2 separate regions of the Homo sapiens genome follow, and region 2 is reported to be linked to region 1. The links are microRNA targets in miRTarBase. Many come from high-throughput screens and were not tested one by one. Region 1 holds a microRNA gene; the other region holds the end of a gene's coding sequence.
What was found. The annotated mature microRNA hsa-miR-378i reads ACUGGACUAGGAGUCAGAAGG and lies in region 1 at 4,344-4,364, opposite strand. An mRNA with a match to its seed (bases 2 to 7 or 8) in the 3' UTR can be bound and repressed. Matches are read on the target gene's strand: a 7mer-m8 pairs with bases 2 to 8, a 7mer-A1 pairs with bases 2 to 7 and ends in A, and an 8mer does both.

Region 2: the mRNA of CELF4 is a reported target of hsa-miR-378i. The part of its 3' UTR that is shown has no 7-base or 8-base seed match.

Annotation. Positions count from the first base shown.
Region 1 is chr22:41,918,928-41,927,195 of GRCh38, forward strand. MIR378I (microRNA 378i) reads right to left here and starts at 4,370; the gene lies at 4,295-4,370. TNFRSF13C (TNF receptor superfamily member 13C) reads right to left here and starts at 7,879. Exons shown (of 3, transcript NM_052945.4): 1 at 7,711-7,879; 2 at 7,174-7,404; 3 at 3,105-6,627. The coding sequence starts at 7,846. The coding sequence ends at 6,440. RefSeq lists enhancers at 127-630, 1,583-1,662, 1,743-1,812, 3,343-3,392, 6,106-6,607 and 1 more and silencers at 673-1,142, 2,823-2,872, 7,200-7,939.
Region 2 is chr18:37,250,975-37,253,974 of GRCh38, forward strand. It overlaps CELF4 (CUGBP Elav-like family member 4), which reads right to left. Exons shown (of 13, transcript NM_020180.4): 12 at 2,793-2,964. The coding sequence ends at 2,837. Among named protein-coding and RNA genes, the nearest start is that of SNORA111, 210 kb to the right of the region's middle.

The DNA.
Region 1 (8,268 bases):
GATCAGGCGGGTCGCGAACTCCTGACCTCAGGTGATCCGCCCGCCTCGGCCTCCCAAAATTCTGGGATTACAGGCGTGAGCCACGGGGCCCGGCCTAATTTTTGTATTTTTAGTAGAGACGGGGGTTTCACCATGTTGGCAGGGCTGGTCTCGAACTCCTGACTTCAAGTTATCGGCCCGCTTTGGCTTCCCAAAGTGCTGGGATTACAGGTGCGAGCCACTGCGCCCAGCCTTTATCCTTTATTTTGGAGCCAGGCTGACCGGGTTGGAATTCCTGCTCTTCAGGGCCATTCAACCTTTCTAGGCCTCAGTTTTGTCATCTGCAAGATGGGCTACCAGCATTTCGGCAGGGTTACAGGGAGAAGCAGTGGGCCCCAGAGACACTGAAGCCAGGCTGAGAAGACCGTGACCGCGGATGCCACCCACAAGCCTCCAAGGCCTCATTCCTAAGCTAATTTCACTTCCATTTCCTCAATGATGCAGTTACCCAAGAAGCAGAGGCTCTTGGGGACTCTGGGCTCCCTGCTGGTGCAAATGCCGATACCAGGAGGGGTTCTGGAGGGAGGGCCCACGGCTGTCTTTGTCTCCCGCGAGGCAACTCTGACTCAGGCTCCAGCTGCCCGTGGGAGGGAGGGGGCGCCCGGGCTCCTGAGGTCGCCAGGGAGCGGCGGGACTGGGAGGCTCCAAAGCCCTCAGTGTACGTGCGAATCCGGAGCGGACACCGAGACCTTAGCGCGGGAACCAAGAGAGGACAGAGCTCCACGGAGGCCACAGCGCGTGCACGGGGACAGGTGCGCCCTCCCCGGCAGCCCCCCTGCTCCTCGGTCACAGTTCTGTGCGGAGGCGTCTTGCGCCCTCCCCCCTGAGCCTCGCCCTTGAGTCGGGGCCGTGGGCCGCATCCAGGCCCCCAGGGCTCGGGATGCGCGTGAGGACCCGGACTCCCGAGGGCGCAGAGGTCGGGAGCCCGAAGCAGGCGCCCTTGGCCTTGGTCCCGCCCCTTATCCGGTCCCAAGCTTTTTCCTCGCCCCTTGGCCTTGACTCCACCCCTTAGGCATGCCGCTGGCCCCGCCCCTTTCCGGCCACCTTGAGGCTTGGGGGTCCCTCAGCCCCGCCTCTCTTCTTGACCCCGCCCCTTGGCAGCACCCCCTACCCCCGCCCCACGTCCAAATCTCCCGGGGCCGGTGGTGGCCGGGGCTGACGGCGGAAGCCGCGCAGAGACTCGCTTGCCCCGAAGTCGCTGGATTCGGGCCTGGATCCCAGATTATCCGCAGCCTAGGGGAGTGGAGAGATGCCCAAGGTTCCTCTGGGTCCCGGGACCCCAGTAGCGTCCCTCCCCCCGTCCCCCACGCCAACCACTGAGCGCCCTTCGGAGTCCCGGGAGGAAAGCGTAGGGGCGGGGAACTCTGGCATCTCTCTCCTCCCGGTTGCTCCCCGACTCTGCCCCGCTATTCCGCTATTTGGGGCAGTCGTTTCTACCGCACCCCCATTCTCTCCCCACCCTCGGGTCATGAGGGCAGGACCAGGCCTGCTCACACCTCCCTGCTGGGGGCGTTCCCTGGCTCTAGCAGGGGTCCCTCTGTCCCTACATGCCACAGGACCTCTTCAATCTCCAAGGACAGCTAGGTGGGCCTCAAGAGCCCCATTTTGCAGATGGGAAGAGGGGCCCAGAGAGTTGAGGCCCAGTGAGATGCTACCAGCTTGCAGGGATAGTGCTGTGTTGAGCCATCCCTGCTGAAACGAAAGTGGGGGGTCAGGCCTTCCTCCCTGGCCTCACCAGCTGGGCCTCCACAACCCCTCCTGGAGCCCCCAGCCTCTGGCTACCAGGCAGGAAGTGAAAGGGGCCTGCAGGAAGCCCCAGGAGGAAGCGAGACTTCAGCCAGGCCTGCCCCCACCGGCCAGGGCCCTGGGGACCTGGTGGGAATCAGACCCTCCTTCAGGAAAAGCTGGCCCGAAACACAGGCTCAGAGAGAGGCCTTTTCCCTTCAGTTCCCACCCGCAAAACGGCGCTTCCAGAGTCTGTCTGGGATCCCTCTTATCAAAATGAGAGAACAGTTGGGGAGAAAATCTGAGTAGTGATGAAACCAGGGAGTGGGGCCTGGCATCAGTCCCCGAGTTCTCCGCTCCCAAGGAGGGGGTCCGGGCCAATGACATTCTGCTGGGCAGGCATGGCCGCCAAGCGCAGGAGCCCAGGGTTCGCCCAGCTCCACCACCCACCTGTTGTATCTTGGGCCGGATCCCATTACCTCACAGGGCCTCTCTTTTCCTATCTGCAAACTGGACCATATAATCCCTCCTCATGGATGTGAAATGGTCTAGATTTTCAGGAGAAAATTTGGACCAACAGGGACCTTTAAAAAGGTCAAGGCTGGGCCGGGCACGATGGCTCACGCCTGTAATCCCAGCACTTTGGGAGGCCGAGGTGGACGGATCATGAGGTCAGGAGATCGAGACCATCCTGGCTAATATGGTGAAACCCTGTCTCTACTAAAAATACAAAAAAATTAGCCAGGCGTGGTGGCGGGCGCCTGTAGTCCCAGCTACTCAGGAGGCTGAGGCAGGAGAATGGCGTGAACCCGGGAGGCAGAGTTTGCAGTGAGCCGAGATTGCACCACTGCACCCCAACCTGGGCGACAGAGCGAGACTCCGTCTCAAAAAAAAAAACAAAACAAAAAGGTCAAGGCTGGCTGGGCGCGGTGGCTCATGCCTGTAATCCCAGCACTTTGGGAGGCCAAGGCGGGCAGATCACCTGAGGTCGGGAGTTTGAGACCAGCCTGGCCAACATGGAGAAACCTCATCTCTACTAAAAGTACAAAATTAGCTGAGTGTGGTAGTGCATGCCTGTAATCCCAGCTACTCGGGAGGCTGAGGCAGGAGAATCGCTTGAACCTGGGAGGAGGAGCCTACGGTGAGCCGAGATTGCACCATTGCACTCCAGCCTGGGCAACAAGAGTGAAACTCCATCTCAAAAAAAAAAAAAAAAAGTCAAGGCCTTTGGCGCAACAACTGTGCTGGGAAACAGAGACTCCTGCACAGGCGCATGTGGCCTGTGCCGTCTTGGCCACAACAGCAAAAACCAAAGTATCCAAATGCCCAGGTGGAAAACCTTACCATGTTGAAAACTTTATTGTGGAGTCTCTAAAGAGAGAGAAACTTACCAAATATTAATATGATGGTCAAGACATGAATTTGTATGTATAGAATGATTACAATTATGTAGAAAAATACACCACACACTCGAGGCCTGGGGTTACTGGACACGGGTCATTTCTTCCCTGACTACATCATGGATTCCGGTCCAGAACTTCCAGATTGTCTACAAAATGCCTATCTTCATTTTTTTCACAAAAAAAAATTTAAACAAACACAAACACCCCACCCCCCTCCTCCAGGTGCTCTTATGAAGATCAAATGAGGTATTGATGTGACGGCTCTGGGTCTCAGTTTCCTCGTCTGTTAAATGCATATGAGAATTATCTAAGGTTCCTTCCTGCCCTTCTCTGGGGACCACAGGCCAGGAGGAGAACCTTGCATACAACCCCTCATTTTTCAGAAGAAAAAACTGAGAACTCAGGGGAAACTTCCTACCGGCTGGCGGGGCCAGCTGGGACAGAGAGATGCCCAAGGTTTGCATGTCTGAGCCCCAGAGGGGTTTCACCCACCCTCGGGGTTTTCACCTGCTGAGCTAACCCTGGCTGTAGCAAAAGATGGGGTGGGAGATGGGGGTGTCCAGGAGAAGATGGGGTGGGGGAGATGGGGTGGCCAGGAGAAGATGGGGTGGCCAGGAGAAGATGGGGTGGGAGATGGGGTGGCCAGGAGAAGATGGGGTGGGAGATGGGGTGTCAAGAGAAGATGGGGTGGGAGATGGGGTGGCCAGGAGAAGATGGGGTGGGAGCTGGGGTGGCCAGGAAAAGATGGGGTGGGGCAGATGGGGTGGCCAGGAGCAGCTCAGACTCCCCCAACTCCAGATGGAAGGGGAGTGGATGGCTGGGCCCATGTGGGCCTGACCCCACCAAACCTCTCCCACACCTACTGCTTGTCACTTGACCTCACCCTGTCACCTGGCTCCCTGGGGGCAGGGGCATCTGAGATGGGTTCATGGAGCAAATAGCCAGGCAGAGACCTGGATGTGAGTGGCCACTGTCTTCCAAGCTGGGCACACAACAGGTCCTTGGGACAGGAAGCACTGAGTCCAGAGGCCTGGCAAGGGACAGGAGGGGCAGGAGAAGCAGGGGTCTACAGGTGGCTCTGGTGGCAGCTCAGGGGGAGGCAGGCAGAAAACATCTGATGCACAGAACAGAACATGCCCAGGGCCCAAGAGTGGGAAAACAGCACCCAGAACTCCACCTTCTGACTCCTAGTCCAGTGCTCCCTTCCAAAGATGCTAAGCTGCAACAAGTTCCAAGGAAGCTGCCCAGGGCGAAGTCCAGGTCAGGAGGTTCTGACCCTGTGCAGGAGGGCAGGTAGGAGGCGGCTGACTGAGTGCACAGTGTCGTCCAGGAGTGGAAAGAGATGGTCTTGTCCCCAGACCCCAGAGCAAGGAACACCATTGTAAGAGGAGGGAGCAGCTTCCACTGTGACGGTGGGTGACCAGGGGGCTGGCACAGGATGGCCAAATAAGCCCAGCACTGGGGGGCCAGTGCTTCAGGGGAACAAGCCAGAGAGAGAAGGGAGTTCAAGGGACCTCATGTCCACCTGGTTCAAGGTCACACGCCTGCCCTGGCCTCTACACAAAGGAGCCTCCTGTAGGTCCCAGCCCTTCCATGTTTATGGCTAAATGTGCTGTGTCTTGGAGCAGCTGGAACCCCAGGTGGACCCTGAGAGAGCTACCTGCCAGCATGTTCCTTCAGCTCGAGTTTGGAGTCCAGCCCTGGAGGCTGCGCACCTCCTCCCAAATGCAGGCTTGTGGCTCTGGAAGCTGCCACTGGGGTCAAAATGGCATCTTAGGTTCTGGCAGATTGGGCCAATCTCAGGGTTGACCCTGGGGTACAGATACCTGAGAATCAGCAAAATCCAGCTCAATCTTTTCTCCTTTGTTATTTCTTAAAATAATCTTGTACTAAATCCCAAAGCAAGCGAACCCATGAATTGATTATTCACTGCTGCCATTTGCATCAGTTTAAAAGCAGGACGGCTCTGAGGGCAGGTATTAAAGAAATAGAGGCCAGGCCCGGCGCCTCCTGCCTATAATCCCAGCCCTTCGGGGAGGACTGCCTGAGGCCAGGAGTTTGAGACTGGCCTGGGCAACATACCGAGACCCTGTCTTTAAAAAAAAAAAAAGGCCAGCCACGGTGGCTCACGCCTGTAATCCTAGCACTTTGGGAGGCTGAGGCGGGCGGATCACGAGGTCAGGAGATCGAGACCATCCTGGCTAATACGGTGACACCCCGTCTCTACTAAAAATACAAAAAAAATTAGCCGGGCGTGATGGCGGGCGCCTATAGTCCCAGCTACTCAGGAGGCTCAGGCAGGAGAATGGTGTGAACCCAGGAGGCGGAGCTTGAAGTGAGCCGAAATTGCGTCACTGCACTCCAGCCTAGGCGACAGAGCGAGACTCTGTCTCAAAAAAAAAAAAAAAAAAAAAATTAGCTGGGCAAGGTGGAGCACCTGTAGTCCCACCTACTCAGGAGGCTGAAGCAGAAAGATTGCTTGAGCCCAGGCTGCAATTAGCTGGGGACCCATCGTTGCACTCCAGCCTGCGTGATACAGCAAGACCCTGTCTCAAAAAAAACCAAAACACAAAACAAGGCCGGGCATGGTGGCTCATGCCTGTAATCCCAGCACTTTGGGAGGCCGAGCAGGGCGGATCACGAGGTCAGGAGATCGAGACCATCCTGGCCAACATGGTGAAATCCCGTCTCTACTAAAAATACAAAAATTAGCTGGCTGTGGTGGTGCGTGCCTGTAATCCCAGCTATTCGGGAGGCTGAGGCAGGAGAATCACTTGAACCAAGGAGTCGGAGGTTACAGTGAGGCGAGATCGCGCCACTGTACTCCAGCCTGGCGACAGAGCAAGACTCGTCTCAAAAAAAAAAAAAAAAAAAAAAAAAAAAAATCAAACAAACACAAAAAACCACCCAACTACAAATTAGGCATCCTCCCACTTGGTCTTTTTTCAGATTCATTTTGGCTTAATGGTGCCTTCCCCATTTTAAAAGCGGTCTTTTACTCATAGTGCCCCAGCCTTTTGAAGGCACAGGAACAGGAGCTGGGCTACCACCTTCAAGGGCTGTCAAAGATGGTGAGGTCTGAAGCCAAAGGCAAGCACACCAAACTCCATGGGGGCTGAATGCTGTGGTCTGTAGTGTCTGTGCTTCTGCAGAGTTAGCCTGGTCCCAGAAAGAGGGCATGTGCATGCTGGAGTGAAGAGCTGAATTTGATTTCCAAGCCCCTGGCTGGGGGTCCAGAGGGAGGGCAGGGGCCACCTCCTGCCGGCTCCCTGCTATTGTTGCTCAGGGCCGGCCGTCTTGGTGGTCACCAGTTCAGTGGAGCCCAGCTCTGTGGCTGGCACAGGGACACTGTGGCCAGGTGGGGTGGTTCCTGGGTCTTCCCCAGGAGGAGGCCAGGCAGGAGCTGTGGCATCAGAGATTCCCGGAGACAGAATGATGACCTTGTCCAGGGGCTCTGGGGCTGCAGGCAGAGGGGGTAGAGGCTCCGTACTCAGTCACAGCCTTCCCTCCCTCCCCTAGAAGACTCCTCTGGAGGGGCAGTCCTCCGTCAAATGAAGCCCAATGCAGGGTGGGGAGGGGTGGCACCTGGCTGACCCTGAGTCCAGAGGCCTGGCCAGTGGGGAGCTGGCAGGGCAGGGAGTTGGGGAGCTGGGGCTCAGTCTGGCAAACTCTTCAGGGATTTATGGGGGAACCAAGCTCCGTTAGACTCCCAAAGGGCAGGACAGACTCCTCCCTCAGACGGGGCCCCCTTCCTGCAACCTGTCTCTTCCTCACACTGGGGTCTGTCAGGGCAGAGCTGTTCCTGGCTCCGACCAGGGTCTCAGGGGCAGGACTATGTCTCCCTCCCCAGCCTGAGCTCCTCAGCGCAAACTCTTTTCCACTCTGTCTCCGTTTCCCCTTAAAGCCCTTCTCTCCCCCTCAGGGGCCATGCATCTCCCCCTAGACCGTCCCGACACCCCAGCCCCTGCGCCCCGCTCAGACTGGTTCCCCTACACACGGAACTCACCGTCCTTGTCTCCGTCGGGGGCCTCTGCGGAGGACGCGCCGCGAAGCCGCCGCTGTCGCCGCCTCCAGCTCACCAGACCCACCAGGACCAGCGCCAGGACCAGTGCCAGGCCCAGCAGCGCGGGGGCGCCAAAGAGCAGCCCGGGCAGGGGCAGCGCCGCCTCGCCGGCCCCCGCGCCCACCGACTCCTGCGGCTGCAGCGCCGTCCTGGGCGCAGGGCTGCTGGCCCCGGCTGCTTCGGGAGGGGACAGGGAGGGAGGCCAGGGGGCCGAGGGGAGGGAGGAGCGGGGACGGGGAGGGGCGGAGGGGGGCGAGGCTGGCCGGGGAGGGGAGGGACAGCCGGGGGGCGGTGGACAAGGGGAGGGAGAGAGGCGGCGGTGAGGGCCACGCGGTGATCGCGGGCCCCTCCAGGCCCTGCCCACAGGGTCCTTTCAGCCCTCGGCGCCCCCGGGGGTCGGGGCTCTGCCTGCGCCCTGGCGATCGGGGCCCCGTTCTCCCCGCAGCTGCCGGCGCCGCGCGCCCCGTGGGTCCCCCTTACCCGGTTTCGGCCGCGGCGTGCGCAGGAGCCCGCAGGCCACGCAGTGGCGGACCAGCAGGTCGAAGCACTCGGCCGGGACGCAGGGCGTGGGGGCTGGCGCGTCCCTGCCCCGCAGGCTCCGGGGCCCTCGCCTCATGGTGCCGACGCCGCCGCACAAGCTGCGGGGACTGAGGCTGAGCTGGGCTCCGGGGCCCTCGGGGAGGAAGCGGGGGGCGGGGGGAGCACTCTGCCCTGCCCCGCCCCCGCCTGCTGGGTGGGACCGAGCTCGCCTGGGGCCCCCCTTTCTTTTCTTTTTTTTTTTTTGAGACGGAGTCTCGCTCTGTCGCCCAGGCTGGAGTGCAATGGCGCTATCTCGGCTCACTGCAAGCTCTGCCTCCCGGGTTCAAACAATTCTCTGCCTCAGCCTCCCGAGTAGCTGAGATTGTAGGCGCCCACTGCCACGCCCGGCTAATTTTTGTATTTTTAGTAGAGACGGGGTTTCACCATCTTGGTCAGACTGGTTTTGAACTCCTGACCTCGTGATCCACCTGCCTCGGCCTCCCAAAGTGCTAGGATTAC
Region 2 (3,000 bases), not on the chromosome of region 1:
CCTCAGGACATTCAGGGTACTCTGGGGTAATAGGTTGGGGTGAGGGTAGGGTGGGGCTTCTCATTCTCCTCACTTGAAGGGGAGAAGGCTCCCTGGCTTCAAAGCTTGGCTCTGTGACTCACTAGCTGATGGGCAAGCTACTTAATCTCTCTGTGCCCCATCTGTGAAATGGAAATACTAACACTACCTACCTTATAGGTAGTTGTAGCTATGTAGTTAACATCTCCTAGTTGTTACTTCTCGGAGCAGTGCCTGGTGCATGGTAAGCACTGTGTGAAGGTCTAGGGTTCTAATCTTTCTGCCCTTTGCATGCCCTGGTGGAAGAACCGACTCTGTGTTTTAAACCACTCCTCCCAAGCCCCCACCCCAACTCTGAATGCCAGCTGGTTCAACCCTGTGGGCACTTCTGACCTTATATCCCAAACAATAAACCTGCCTTCTCACTCCTTCATCTGGGAATTCTTCTAACCTAGAGGTTTTATCCTGGCTTGAGCCAAGGAGGCTAAGACAAGCTACTTTCAGGGGTGCCCCTTGGAATCTCGGGACATGACCCTGCCTGATTCATATCCCCCTAACCCCCAAATCCTCTAGTTGACTCTAACACCTTAGTCTCATTAATGAGAAAAAAGAAGCCCAAAGAGGACAAGCACCCTAACCCAGGTCACACCTTAATGGCAGAGCTATGCTGATTTAAGAAAAAGTGTCCTATATACAGAAAAAGCTGCTTTCACGAAACCGTCCCTCCATTCCTATGGAAATGCCCCCATCTGCAAGCTGCCTCCTGGTGTCTGTGTGTGCACAGAGCCAGAAGCTCCTCGAGGGCAGGGATGGTGACTCATTCATCCTTGCATCCCCCACACTGGGCCCAGTGCCTGGCACAAGAAGGTGCCCAAACTCTGAATAACATGTGTGTTTGCATCTGGACACAAGCCAGAAATGGGCAAGGATGGGAAACAAGCCAGAAATGGGCAAGGATGGGAAACCAGGAGGCAGGAAAGACTGGTTTTGCTTTTCCAGGATTGCAGAGAGTGGAGGCACAAGCACTCCCCCAGAGAGAAGGCCCCTGCTCTCTGAGGGTGAGAGTTGCTACTTCTGGGTGGAGGAAGGGTGTTCTGCTGGTATCTGTACCCCAGCACTGGGTGGAAGATTTGAGGGGAGACTGGGAAGCTGGAGACCTCCCTCCCAAACTCTGGACTGTGAAACTCAAATGTGTATTTTTCACATGCCTGATCTTTCTCCCAATCCCTCTGTTCTTCCAGTGACTTGGGCCAAAAGCCTGGGACTCATCCTTGGCTCCTCTTTCAAAATACACCTAGAAATTAATTCCTTCACATCTCATCAACTGCTGTGACACTGGACTGAGTGGTCAGTGCAGTAGACCTATGCTTTGGCCCCCTACAAGCTATTGTCAACACAGAAGCCAGGGTGACCCCACTGAAATGCAAGTTACCCATCACTCTCCTATTCAGAACTCTCCAATGCTCTCTCCATCTCCCATTTCAGAGAAGAGACCAAAGTCCACGCAGTGGCCTTCAAGGCCCCACACCAGGTGGCCCTCCTCACTCTCCCAGCAACCCAGTCTCTTGCTGTTCCTACTCCACTCTGCAGCCCCACCTTGCAGCCTCCATACTGACTGTTCCCTCAGAGGCGGGGGCATGGCTGCTTCCCTCACCTTCTATGCTCCAATTCACTTCCTCAGTGAGATCTACACTGACCATGTGGTTTAACTGTAGCCAACAATCTCGACATACTAGATCATATTCTTTGATCACACGTCATTGTTTATTGTCTGTCTCCACCTTCTCAATCTTGCTCACTGCTGAACCCCAAGTACCTAACACAGTAGCTGGCACACAATACTGCTGAATAAATGGAGGAACATGGGCAGGGAGGGGCGGTCAGAGGGCAGCAGGGTGCTGAGCTGGAAAGGCCCGAAAGGAGCCTTCACCTCTGCTCTGTGAAGAAGCCGAGGCTGCAAGAGCCACAGCACTGGGGGAAACCATTCTGAAGGTTGACTTTTGATGTCCTGGGGAATCTCCCCCCATTCTTTCTGCAGGAAGAACTTTGCTCAGGGGAACACGTGGGCTGGAAGAGGCGTGGCTGACTGTGTCTTCAGCTCCTAGGCAGGACCCAGCCCAGCAGAAAAGGTAACAACGACCACTCATCATGACCCGTGTGGGGCAGGCAGGGCCCGGGATCTCAGTGCTGTACCATCACCCTCCTCAGCTTTCATCCCATCCTGCTTTGTTTCTTAGTAAAGTTCCCTTTGAAAGATCCTGTCCTTCCTCTCTTCACTGAGCTATGGGGAAAGACAGGGGTGCAGGGGTCAAGTGTCTAAAGGCTACCAGCCCTCCTGGAAGAACTGGGGAGGAGAGAGCCGGGGGTCTGGGAGCAGGCCCCGCGGGCGGCTGCAGCTCTTCTGGGTAGAGCCTGTTCTGCCCCCAACCTCCCTCAGCCTGAGCTTGCCACCTGTTCACCCCAGGGTTCTCTGGCCAACAGGACTGCCAATGTAGACCCGGAGGCGCAGGCCCAGGGCTCGCCTCACCCGCCCGGAGTGGCTCCCTCACTCCTGCCCCTGGTGGCCCTGCCACAGGGAAATGGCCAGGCCCATTTCTGCCGGGGTGACGGCAGCTCTGCGCCTGGCCCGAGGAGCAGGGCGAGGAGCAGGTTGAGCCGGGCGCAGCGGGTCCAAGGCACCAGTGAGGGTCCGGCCCACGGAGGCCGGAGGAGGCGGCGGGTCCGTCTGGTTCCCTCCCAACCCCCGTCCCCGCGCCCCGGCCGCCCCCGGTTACCTGTGCGAGTCCTGGTCTCCCCCGGGGGACGCTCCCGCCGGCGCTCAGTACGGGCGATTGGCGTCTTTGGGCCGCTTCAGCTGCACCTTGAGCCTCTTCATGCCGATCTGGAAGCCGTTCATGGCCTGGATGGCGGTCTGCGCGCTGGCCGGGTTGTCGAAGCTCACGAAGCCTGGCGAGACACGAGGGACGAGGGCCTGGGTTTCCA